Linked DNA regions of Homo sapiens: region 1 is linked to region 2. Evidence: fine-mapped expression QTL. A gene starts in region 2. The other region holds a variant in brackets. All regions are shown on one strand. Distances are from middle to middle. Region 1 overlaps ZNF81 (zinc finger protein 81). Region 2 holds the start of SLC38A5 (solute carrier family 38 member 5).

Region 1 (5,207 bases), 590 kb after region 2:
CTCCCAAAGTATTGGGATTACAGGCCTGAGCCACTGTGCCAGACCTTGTTTGACAATTTCTAATAAAGTTAAACATATACCTACCATATAATTTAGCAATTCCATTTCTTAGTAGTTACTAAAAAGAAATTAAAACATACATCCTCAGAAAACTTATATAAGAATGCCCATAGCAGGCTTGATTCATGATAATCAGAAACTAGACACATTCTAAATGTTCATCAACACATGAATGTCTACACAAATTGTGGTGTCTTCATACAATGGAATACTCAGCAACAAAAAAGGAAAAATCCACGGATAGACACAACAACCTGGAAGAATCTCAGAAGCATTATGCTATTTTACAAACAGAAGCCAAACACTGAAGTCAGACACAGATGGTTTGATTCCATTACAAAGACAGGACAATCAAGAATTTTAATCTACAGGGATTTAAAACCTTAACAATGGTTGTTGCCTCAAGGGGAGAATACTGACTGGTCAAGAGGGAACTTTCTATATTTTAATTTGCATGGATGTGTATATATATGTACATATATGTGTGTATATGGGTGTGTATATATATGTACATATATATATACACACACATATACTTGTCAAAACTCATCAAACTATACATTTAAGATCTGGGCAATTCAGTATATTTCAAATATGACTCAATTTCAAAAACCACAAAAAACAAAAGGGCATGTTAGAAACATATTCATGCCTATAATCCCAGCACTTTGGGAGGATCGCTTGAGGCCAGAAGCTTGAGACTAGGCTGGGCAACACAGTGAGACCCCACCTCTAAAAAAAAATTAAAAATTAGCCAGGCATGGTGATATAAGCCTGTAGTCCCAGTTGCCTGGAAGGCTGAGGAGGGAGGATCGTTTGAGCCCAGGAGTTTGAGGTTACAGTGATCTATGGATGCACCACTGCATTCCAAGCCTGAGTGACAGAGTGAGACCCTGACTCTAAAAATAAAATAAAATAAAATAAATATATTGAAATATATTCAGGGTACACCGTGGGCCCCAAATAGAAAACAGTCAATTCTACTGGGGATGTAAGTTTAGGTTCCATAAAGTTGGTGCAGTTTAAATTGGCTCTTGGGGAAAAAAATTAATTGAAAAGATAAGTGGGGGAAATACTTTCCAGAAGAGACAAGGAAAATAGTGTGGAAACAGGAAAATACATGGTGAATTAAGTAAAGAGCAAACAGCTCTGTAAAAAAGAGAGAATACTATTTATATGTCAGTCCTATGGTTTGAATATCTGTCCCCTCTGTCATAGGTAGGCAGCGACTATCTGGGGCCGGTGGCACAGGGGTAAGAAGAATTTACCAAGACAGTTGTAGGTGAAGAAAGGCAGATTTGTTAGAGAAAGTAGGAAAATATGTTGCAAGGGTGCAATGGGCAGACCAGCAAGAGAGGAGCTAACTGCAAGGAAAGAAAGGCTTGCTGGGGATTTTATAGAATGGTGTTTATGATGTATGCTGAAGAGGGCTTTGTGCAGTACTGATAACATCAGCTGAAGGCCTGGTAATAGTTGGGAGCAGGAAGATTGCGAGTTATTTGTGCAGGAGGGCTATGTGTCCTGGACCATGAAGAAAGGCAGACTTGTAGCTTATCTGCTTTATCTTTTTGTTTCCTTCAGTCCCACTAGCCCAACTCCTTTTCCCTAATTAGGACTCCACACCCTCCAAAATGGATTAGTCCATTCATAGATTAAGGGGTTATCACAGGAATGGAACTTGTGGCTTTCTAAGAAGAGGAAGAGAGACTGAGCTAGCACACTCAATCCCCTAGCCATGTGATACCCTGCACCACCTCAGGACCCTGCAGAGTCCCCACCAATGAGAAGGCCCTCACCAGATGTGGTCCCTTGACCTAGGACTTCTCAGCCTCCATAACTGTAAGAAATAAATTCCTTTTCTTTATAAATTACCCAGTTTCAGGTATTCTGTTATAAGCAACAGAAAATGGAAGTAAGACAATTAGGGAGGTGATTATGAGAAAAACATTCAGGTAAGTATGCTGGAGTCTGATCATGGAAATAGCATGAATTCTTTTAAGTAACAGTTTGCCAATGAAGTGTTTTATATATCAAGAAAGAGGTATTACTGAGTTTTATATTAAAATTATTATCCCACCCACAAGTACTTCATTTCAGGGTACACAAATAATTGATTTTGGAAATTTATTCTTTACAGAAGAATTCCAGCTGAGAAATGCTAATAAAAGCAATGATCACGAGGCCAGGTGCAGTGACTCATGCCTGTAATTCCAGCACTTTGGGAGGCCAAGGTGGGTAGATCGCTTCAGCCCAGGCATTTGAGACCAGCCTGGGCAACATGGCAAAAACCCATCTGTACAAAAAATACAAAAAATTAACCAGGCATGGTAGTGCACACCTGTAGTCCCAGCTACTTGGGAGGCTGAGGTGGGAGAATAACCTGAGCTTGGGAGGTCGAGGCTGCAATGAGCTGTGATGCATCACTGCACTCCAGCCTGGATGACAGAGTAAGACCCTGTCTCAAAAGAAAGCACTGATCATCAATGGCTGCTGAAACTACTGAGTGAAAGACTGCAGAAATTTTATAATGTATGGACCAGGCTGAGAACCCCTGAACACACAGACATATTTGGTATTATGTGCCTCCTGGAGGGATGAATTAGCAAGTGTGTTCAACACCACCTATGAAGTATTCTTGCCCAAAAAAATTAAATCTGAATTGATCAAGCCTCTAGATTCATCAGTTCATATTAATATAAAGATACAGGAACACGTTAAATAACACCACAAGAATACAATTAGCAAATTCCAAAATGTGGGACATAGCACAGGGCAAATGGCCCAGTTTCTTCAACAAATAAATAGCAAGGAGAAAAACAAGAGAGAGGAGAATCTGGGAGATTTGCCATAGATTAAAAGGGACTTGAGAGGCTGTTGGGAGATGGCTCTCCACAGGTCTCTGCACATCTTGAAAGCAGACTCACTGACTGCCTTTTTTCCAACTTATCTTTTCAAGCCTGTTAATACAGCAAGCAGCCCTGGAAGACAGAGTCTCCCTCCAGAACAAAGGGCAGGTTATACTAGAAATTATACTAAA[C/T]GTAATTTCTCCCTTCAGGACAAAGGAGAGGCAGATTTATTGCCCATTATAAAAGATCTGGAGTCCATAAACTTAGGCTTTCTCTCATATAATGGAACCCACTGTATGTGCAGGTATCATCTAGCCCTCTGCATTGCCTTGTGGAAACTGAGGCTTAGAGAAGCAGCACAACTGCTAACACTCCGGCTACCACAAGTATTATAAAGTCCTTTATCTCTTACTGAGGAGTCTTGTATTTTTTGCCAGCATCCATGATACTGTGCTGGGTTTTTATCTTGCAAGTAGGGTAATATCTCAGACTCTTCACAGTTCTTGAAGTTCTGGTGATTAGGATTGGCCACTCACAGAGATGTAGCTTTCTGGAAAAGGAAAGATGAGGGCCTTGTCGACCCCTGGAAGGAAAAAATAATCCCCCAAACTCCCTGCCATGGATGTCCATCGTCTAATCCCTGGAACCTGTGAATATATTATACTACATAGCAAAAGGAAATTAAGGTTGCATACGGTATTAAGGTTTTAAATCAGCAGACCTAAAATACTGAAATTATCATGTATCATCTAGGTGGGGCCAATGTAGCCACAAGGATCCTTAAAAGAAGAAGAGTGAGGAAGAAGAGAAGGTTAGAGTGACCCAATGTGAGAAGAACTGGACTCACTGTTGCTGGCTTTGAAGATGGAGGAAGCAGCCACAAGCCAAGGAATATGGGTGGCCTCTAGAGGCTGGAAAGGGCAAAGAAATGGAATTTTCCTTAGAGCCTTGAGGAAGGAATCAGCCTTGCCATCTTGATTAATTTAGACCAGTGAGAACCATTTTGGACTTCTGAACTACAGAACTATAGGATAACAAACTTCTGTTATTTTAAGCCACCAAGTTCGTGGCAATTTGTTACAGCAGTGATAGAAAACTAATATATGGGGCAATTAAGAGGATTTAAGGTGAATCAGCAGTGAATATGTTGACTAAATTGTATGGTCAACTGTGCAATAAATGGTCCTCCACTTTATTGCTTGTCATTGAGGAGGAACTGGGGAAATTCTTACACACTAAGTGCCAGGAAGTAGGTTTAAAGAGTCTCCTAGTTATTCCAAACTCTCATCCAGGTGGAGGACTTCCTCACCAATGTGATGGTCAGTCTCAGGTTCCCCCCAATCGGGGGATGTCATTGAGGGGAATGCCTGATACAGAGGTCTGGGCATACTGAAAACATGAGAGGTTCACTAGGTTGAGTCCTGAGCAGCTGCTGCATTGCTTGAAACTGAAAGTAAATGGGAAGACTTGCTTACTGGCATGGCGCCGCACCATCTCACTCCATGCCTGGTCCCTCTGTCCCCTTCTACCCTTAGTAACAACCAGTATTGAGAATCATTGGTGGGAGGGGTGGAGGTGCAGTTCCCAACCCTTTTGCAGACAATAGTTACAGAAAAGAGCATCTACACTCAAGACAAAAAGAGGAAAATTCATGACTGGTAGGCACAGAAACCAGGAAAATGGTCAGAACTTTGGCTGGTCTGGTTGCACGACAGGCAGGAGGGGATGTAAAGTTTGTTAAGGAAGAATGGCAACAGCTGGGATGTTCACGGCTCGGCCCCTCCTACAGTCGATCATGCCAACCTTAGAGCCCTTCAGAAGCAACAGGAAAAGGTCTCAGAGGTTTTTTGCAGTAGATCCTGGCTGCTGTTATTAGGCCTATAGTTAGCCCTCTTGGTAAGCTGCCTGAGACGAACTCTTGTGGGAAATCACAGATGAGGCATTGACTAGCATTGGGCTCTTACTGCCCCGTATTGGATCTATAATGCTAGGAAATGAGAAACTGACCCAAAGAATTCAAGATTTTTTTAGGTCAGCTCACACTGTCCTGGAAAACTCCCCTCGTTTTTATGTTTAAAACTAAGCAACAACTTAAGGTATGCTATCAGGAAAATGAGCAGCAAATGTGCCAGCTTAAAATGGACATCTTAAAAATAAGAAGTTGCTACTGTGCTAGTAAAGCCTGAGTTCACCAGTGGGCATGACCAGAAACCAATGTGGCCATGGCTGTAGAACTGAGGCATCCCCAAAGTCGAAACAGATGGTGTCAGTAAGGCTGATCTTGCCGCCCGATACAGAGTT
Region 2 (5,207 bases):
TGCTGAGTGTATCTCACCTGCCCGTTCTCAGCCACAGCCACACGTATGTGAGCTGTGCCTGCGTCTTCCTATGTAACTTGCCTGGTGCTGCGTTCTGTCTATGGCCGCCTGCCAAACTTGTGCTTTTTTTTTTTTTTTTTTTTGAGATGGAGTCTCACTCTGTCGCTTGGGCCGGAGTGCAGTGGCGCGATCTTGGCTCACTGCAACCTCCGCCTTCCAGGTTCAAGCAATTCTCTTGCCTCAGCCTCCCGAGTAGCTGGGATTACAGGAACCCGCCACCACGCCCAGCTAATTTTTTTTGTATTTTTAGTAGAGACGGGGTTTCGCCACGTTGGCCAGGCTGGTCTCGAACTACTGACCTCATGATTCACTCACCTTGGCCTCCCAAAGTGCTGGGATTACAGGCATGAACCACTGCACCCGGCCCAACTCATACCTTTTTTTTTTTTTTTTTTTTGGCAACCGTGTGCATTGGTACTGTCTGTCGGTGCAGTTCATCTATATGTTGTTGTGTGTGTGTGTTGCTTGGGTGTTTGTCTCCTTTGTAATGGTCGTGGGTGACAAGTGTGTCAGAGTACTTGTCCCTCCTATATGTGTATCTATGCGCACGTATCTTTCTTTGTGTGTCTGCTGCTGTATTTGTGTCTCTTCTTAGCGAGTGGCTGCAGGTATGTGTGCCCTCGGGGTGTTTCTTCTGGTGCCATGGTATGAGTACTATCTGGTTCTCTTGTTTTTTCCTTGTGTAGCTTTCAGTGTGGTTTCTGGATTTTTTCTTTGCAACGATAGTAAGCGTACTCTGCATTCCTGTGCTTTGTGTTTGTGTGCAGGTATATGCTTTCCCTATATGTTTCTTTTCTGACTTGATTTGTGACTAGCTGTGTGTGTACACGGCTGTGTGCAGCCATTTGCTGAAATGCAGTTGTGTGTGTGTGTGTGTGTGAGAGAGAGAGAGAGAGGAGAGAGAGAGAGAAGGAGACTATGGCTTTTCTGTTTGTACAAAAATCATGTCAGCCTATGAGTGCCTCTCTCTGTGACTGGAGCTGTATGTGGTTACATGTGGTCACAAGTGCACATTCAAGTTCACATACACAGAGATATCATTTTAGGGCTTGAACCTGGAAGTTTGCCTCCAGGGTCATCTGAACCTGGATTCAGGTTCAGATCCAGGGCCATCTGAACCTGGATCGTGTGTGTGGGAAAGACCCAGGACCCACACACAATGTCATCAGCTGTGTGTAATTGTGTGCTCTGTGTGTGGCTGTGAATCTGTGTGTGTGATTTGCCTGTTGATTGTCTTTGGCATGGCTGTGGGTCCACGGGCGGTGAGGTTCAGGAGTCTCGAGTGTCTGGAAATCGGCACAAGCCTATCCCTGTGTTAGTCTGTGCTCTCTGTGAGCGGCTCTGAGCCTGTCGGTATTGATAGCTGTAAGACTATCGTCACTCTGTGTGGCCACGTGTGTGACTGTCCCATGAGCCATTGCTCTTAACGTGCAGTGGTGAGTCTGTGTGTGTTCATGTCTGTCAGTCTTTATTCTCTTGTGTGGCTGTGAGTCTTTGTGCACCTCTGTGAGTGATGGCGAGTTGGCCCCCGTATCTGAGCCCCTTGATGGGGCTGTGATGGGTCCTGTTGTGTAGCTGCGATTCCTGAGTGTGCAGGAGTCTCTCTCCCGCTGTGGGGAAGTAAACGCCCCATCCCTTGTCCTCCTCCAACTGTGGGTGGGGTGAGGGCATCTAGGCCAGCTTTGAAGCCCCAGCCAGCTCCTGGCCTTTCCGGGAATTCTGTGTTCCCTGTCGGGGGTGGGCAGGCGGGCGAGGGGCCCAGACAGAGGCCTCTTGTCCACCTGGGCTTCAAGCAGCCCAGTCGAGGTGGTCCCAGACCCCAAGTCCACCCTGCCTGACATCCTGTAGCGGACACGTGGCTTGCCTGGGACAGGCATGCCTGTCATATGCCTGGAGGGGAGTGAACAGACGGACTCCCATAGAAGACAGACGGACAGACAGATAGTGGGACTTCTCAGGGCTTGGACAAGCCCCACCCCACGCTTGGGGTGGGGTCCAGGACTACAGTGCCCGCCCAGTTTGCGGACAGTGTGAGTTCACAGTCCACATTCCCCACCCAGCCACAAATGCCCTCCCTGCCTCCCTCTGGGGGCCCCCAAGATCTAGGGTCCTCTCGTGCCTAGGCTGTCTGCCTGAGGTCTGCCTGGAATAGCCTGGCTACTACCCCTGCACCTGTTCCCCTGCTGTCCCCAGGCCTCTCTGCCTGAATCTGCCTCTCTCTGCCTCTTTTCTCCTGTCCCTCCAGGAGTCTCTCTGCCTCAACCACTCTCTCTGCCCCTTCATCTCTCTGAGCTGGTGTGTCTGGTCCTACCCTCTGTTTGGGGAGCTGTCTGGCTCTGTCCCCCACCTCTTGGCCAGCCTGTGTCTCCTGTCTATGACTGAGCCCAATTGCCTGTTGCCTTTCTGCAGGTGTTTCCACGAGCCTATCCCTACCCACCTGTTTGTTTCTGAGTCTGCCTGTGTGTCCCTTTCTCCCTGTCTCTGCCTGTCTTCCAAGCTCCCCTAGCATCCCCTCCTCCCGCCCATCTGTCTTTCTGTCCCTTCTGTGGTCTGTCTGTTCCTGTGCTGTTTCTCATGCCTGCTTTCTTTGTAACTTCAGTTCTCCTACTCTCTCTCTGTCTCCTCTCTGCACCTTTTTCTGCCATCCATCCCATCCTGCTGTCCGTCTGCTCTGTGAGTCCATCCCCTCTGTCTGCCTGTCACTCTCTCTAGCTGTGGGTCTACACCCTCAATCTTTCAGGCCATTTCCCCCACCATCAACACACAAACAAACCGCTGTCTCCCTCCAAGTGGGTCCAGATAGGGGGCGCCCCTTCTCCACCTCTTCCCCCGCCCAGGGCCAGAAGGAGGGAAACGAAATTAAAATTAACATTTCTTCTCAGGAAAAAAAAAAAAGTACCGCTCCAGAGCAGGAGCCTAGGCAGCCGAGAGGGTGCCCGAACCTGAGTCTGAGTTGCGGCCACTTCAGGAGCTGAGAGGAGCAGGTAGGTGAGGAGGGAGCGTGGGCTGCGGGGATGGTGTTCCTGGGGGCCTGAGATATGAGTAGGGGTCCTGGGAGGGGGCTCGGGGTTCCTTGGAGACATTTTAGCACTAGTGGGGAATGGAATGGCGTGTATGGGGAGGTCCTTTTTGTACCCTGATCCCAGGAAGTGAATTCAGGTGTGGGTGGGAGGCTCCGGAGGGTGCTGGTGGTGGGGGATGGGACTCCTTGAGACCCTCCCTGTCCCAGGAACGGGATTCAGGACTTGGGAAAAGGATTTCCTGAGCCAGTTTGAGCTCTAATGGGGACCTTGAATGGGGGTTTCTGAGATACCTCCTTCCCAAGGAGTAAGCGCGGGAGGGAGCTGGGGTTTCTTCAGAGACGCTGTACCTACAAGACAGGGGCTCCAGGCTCGGGTGGGGATTGCAGAGACACCCCCACCCCAGGAAACTCGGTAGGCCACGGGAGGGGGTCTTTGATGAAGGTCTCAGAAATAGCTCTTCCTCCGGAGGGAAATGAGGGCTCGGGCCAGGTTCCTGAGACACCCCACACCCCACACCTAGGAAGTTTCTCAAGTCTGGCAGTGTCTCCAAATTGACTTCTGCCAGAAGATGAGTGTTTAAGACTTGCTAGGGGCCCTGGAAAAGACCTCTAGGCCCTAGAATTGGGGTCAAATGGGAGTCCCTGGGTCATTTCTGTCCCTGGGAAGGGGCTCGGTTCGGGCACTTGTCTTTGGCTTCTAGTGAGGATATTCAGAGTCGTGGCAGAGAGCAGTTTGCAGCGTCTGGGGCAGGGGTCTCCGAGTCTGTCCCCAACCCTCAGCTCACTCAACAGGTTGCATTAGCTCTGGTCTCGGGCTTGGGGGCCCAGGCGGGAAGGAGGGGGGTGAGGGCATTAGGAGGGGTGGGGCAGCCAGGCCGACACGTGTCCCTGCAAGGAGTGAGCCGCCTGGCCACGCGGTGAGGGTGGAGGGAAGGAGAGGGGGTGGCGCGGGGGACCGGGGAATGAAAGACACAGATGGCAAGAGAGACAGCGTGAGTCTGGGGTCTGGGAGGAGAGGCTATCCCTTCTCCACGTGGTCGGCTCATCTGCGCTGGGGTCCGGCTCTCTCTGTAGCTTTCTGTCTCTCTCTTCCCCACTATTTCTCTCTCACTGGCTCTCTCTGTGTCTCTCTGAGTAACTAACTGTTGGCTTCTCTCCTTCTCTGATTTTTGTTCTTCTCTCTCTCTCATCTCTTTCTCTGTCAGTCTGCCTCCATTTCTATCCCTGTCTGTTCCTGCTCCCCTGCCTTGTCTCTTTCTCCGTCTTTCCATCGGTCTCTATGGGACTCCCCTCCCCCCTTCTTCAGCTCCCCTCACTTTGAAGCATGCTCGTTCCATCTCTGATCCCCCCACCCCATTTCTTTGCCCACAGGATGGAACTGCAGGATCCAAAGATGAATGGAGCCCTCCCTTCGGATGCTGTGGGGTGAGTCAGGGGTCCAAGGAGGTGGGCTCAGGGATCAGGGGTCAGGATTTCCCTCTTATCGGCCCCTATTTCCCTGCCCTATCCAGCTACAGGCAAGAACGTGAGGGCTTCCTGCCCAGTCGTGGTCCTGCTCCTGGGAGCAAGCCGGTCCAGTTCATGGATGTGAGTGGCCCCACAGGATCTGTCCTGGTGGCACCTTCCCCAGCTAATCTCCTCCCGCACTGCTCCCTCTTCCCCACTCCTCCTCCTCCCTGCTGTTCCCCTGCCCAGCTATCTCCCCAGCACAGCTACACACTACTTGGTCGCTCCCCTCTCCAGATACTCCTCTTCCCCAGATATGCCCTTTCCAGCTCTCTCCCTGGCCTTGTTTCTCCCCACCCGCTCTTCGGCCCAGTGACTGCCCTCCCTGGCTGCTCCCCTCCCGGCCTGCCTTTCTCCTCCAGCTGTTCTTCCTCCTCCAGCACTCCCCATCCTCAGCCTATCCCCACCCGCAGCGTCTCCCCTCCCCAGCTGTTTTACCTCTGGTGGCTGCTTCACCCTCCCCCGGTCCTCTCCACTTCCAGCTGCTCCCTCCAAAGTTTGTCCTAGTTTCCCCCTTCCCAGCTCTCCCCATTCGCAGCCTCTTCCATCTTCAACTCTTCTTCCCTGCTAGCCTCTTCCCTCCTCCGATGGTCTCTCCTTGGCTTCTCTCCACCCCGCT

The links. PIP is the estimated chance that this variant, and not a neighbour inherited with it, causes the effect.
Region 1: its variant is the best candidate, but not a certain one, in a credible set for the expression of SLC38A5 in visceral fat (GTEx, PIP 0.55).

The regions. Positions count from the first base shown.
Region 1 is chrX:47,877,547-47,882,753 of GRCh38, reverse strand. All of the region lies in intron 2 of ZNF81 (zinc finger protein 81), which reads right to left. Among named protein-coding and RNA genes, the nearest start is that of ZNF81, 43 kb to the right of the region's middle. RefSeq lists a cis regulatory region at 1,428-1,968. The variant C/T (reference allele first, on the strand shown) is at 3,098.
Region 2 is chrX:48,467,172-48,472,378 of GRCh38, reverse strand. It overlaps SLC38A5 (solute carrier family 38 member 5), which reads left to right and starts at 2,119. Exons shown (of 17, transcript NM_033518.4): 1 at 2,119-2,197; 2 at 2,943-3,044; 3 at 4,454-4,507; 4 at 4,594-4,669. The coding sequence starts at 4,455.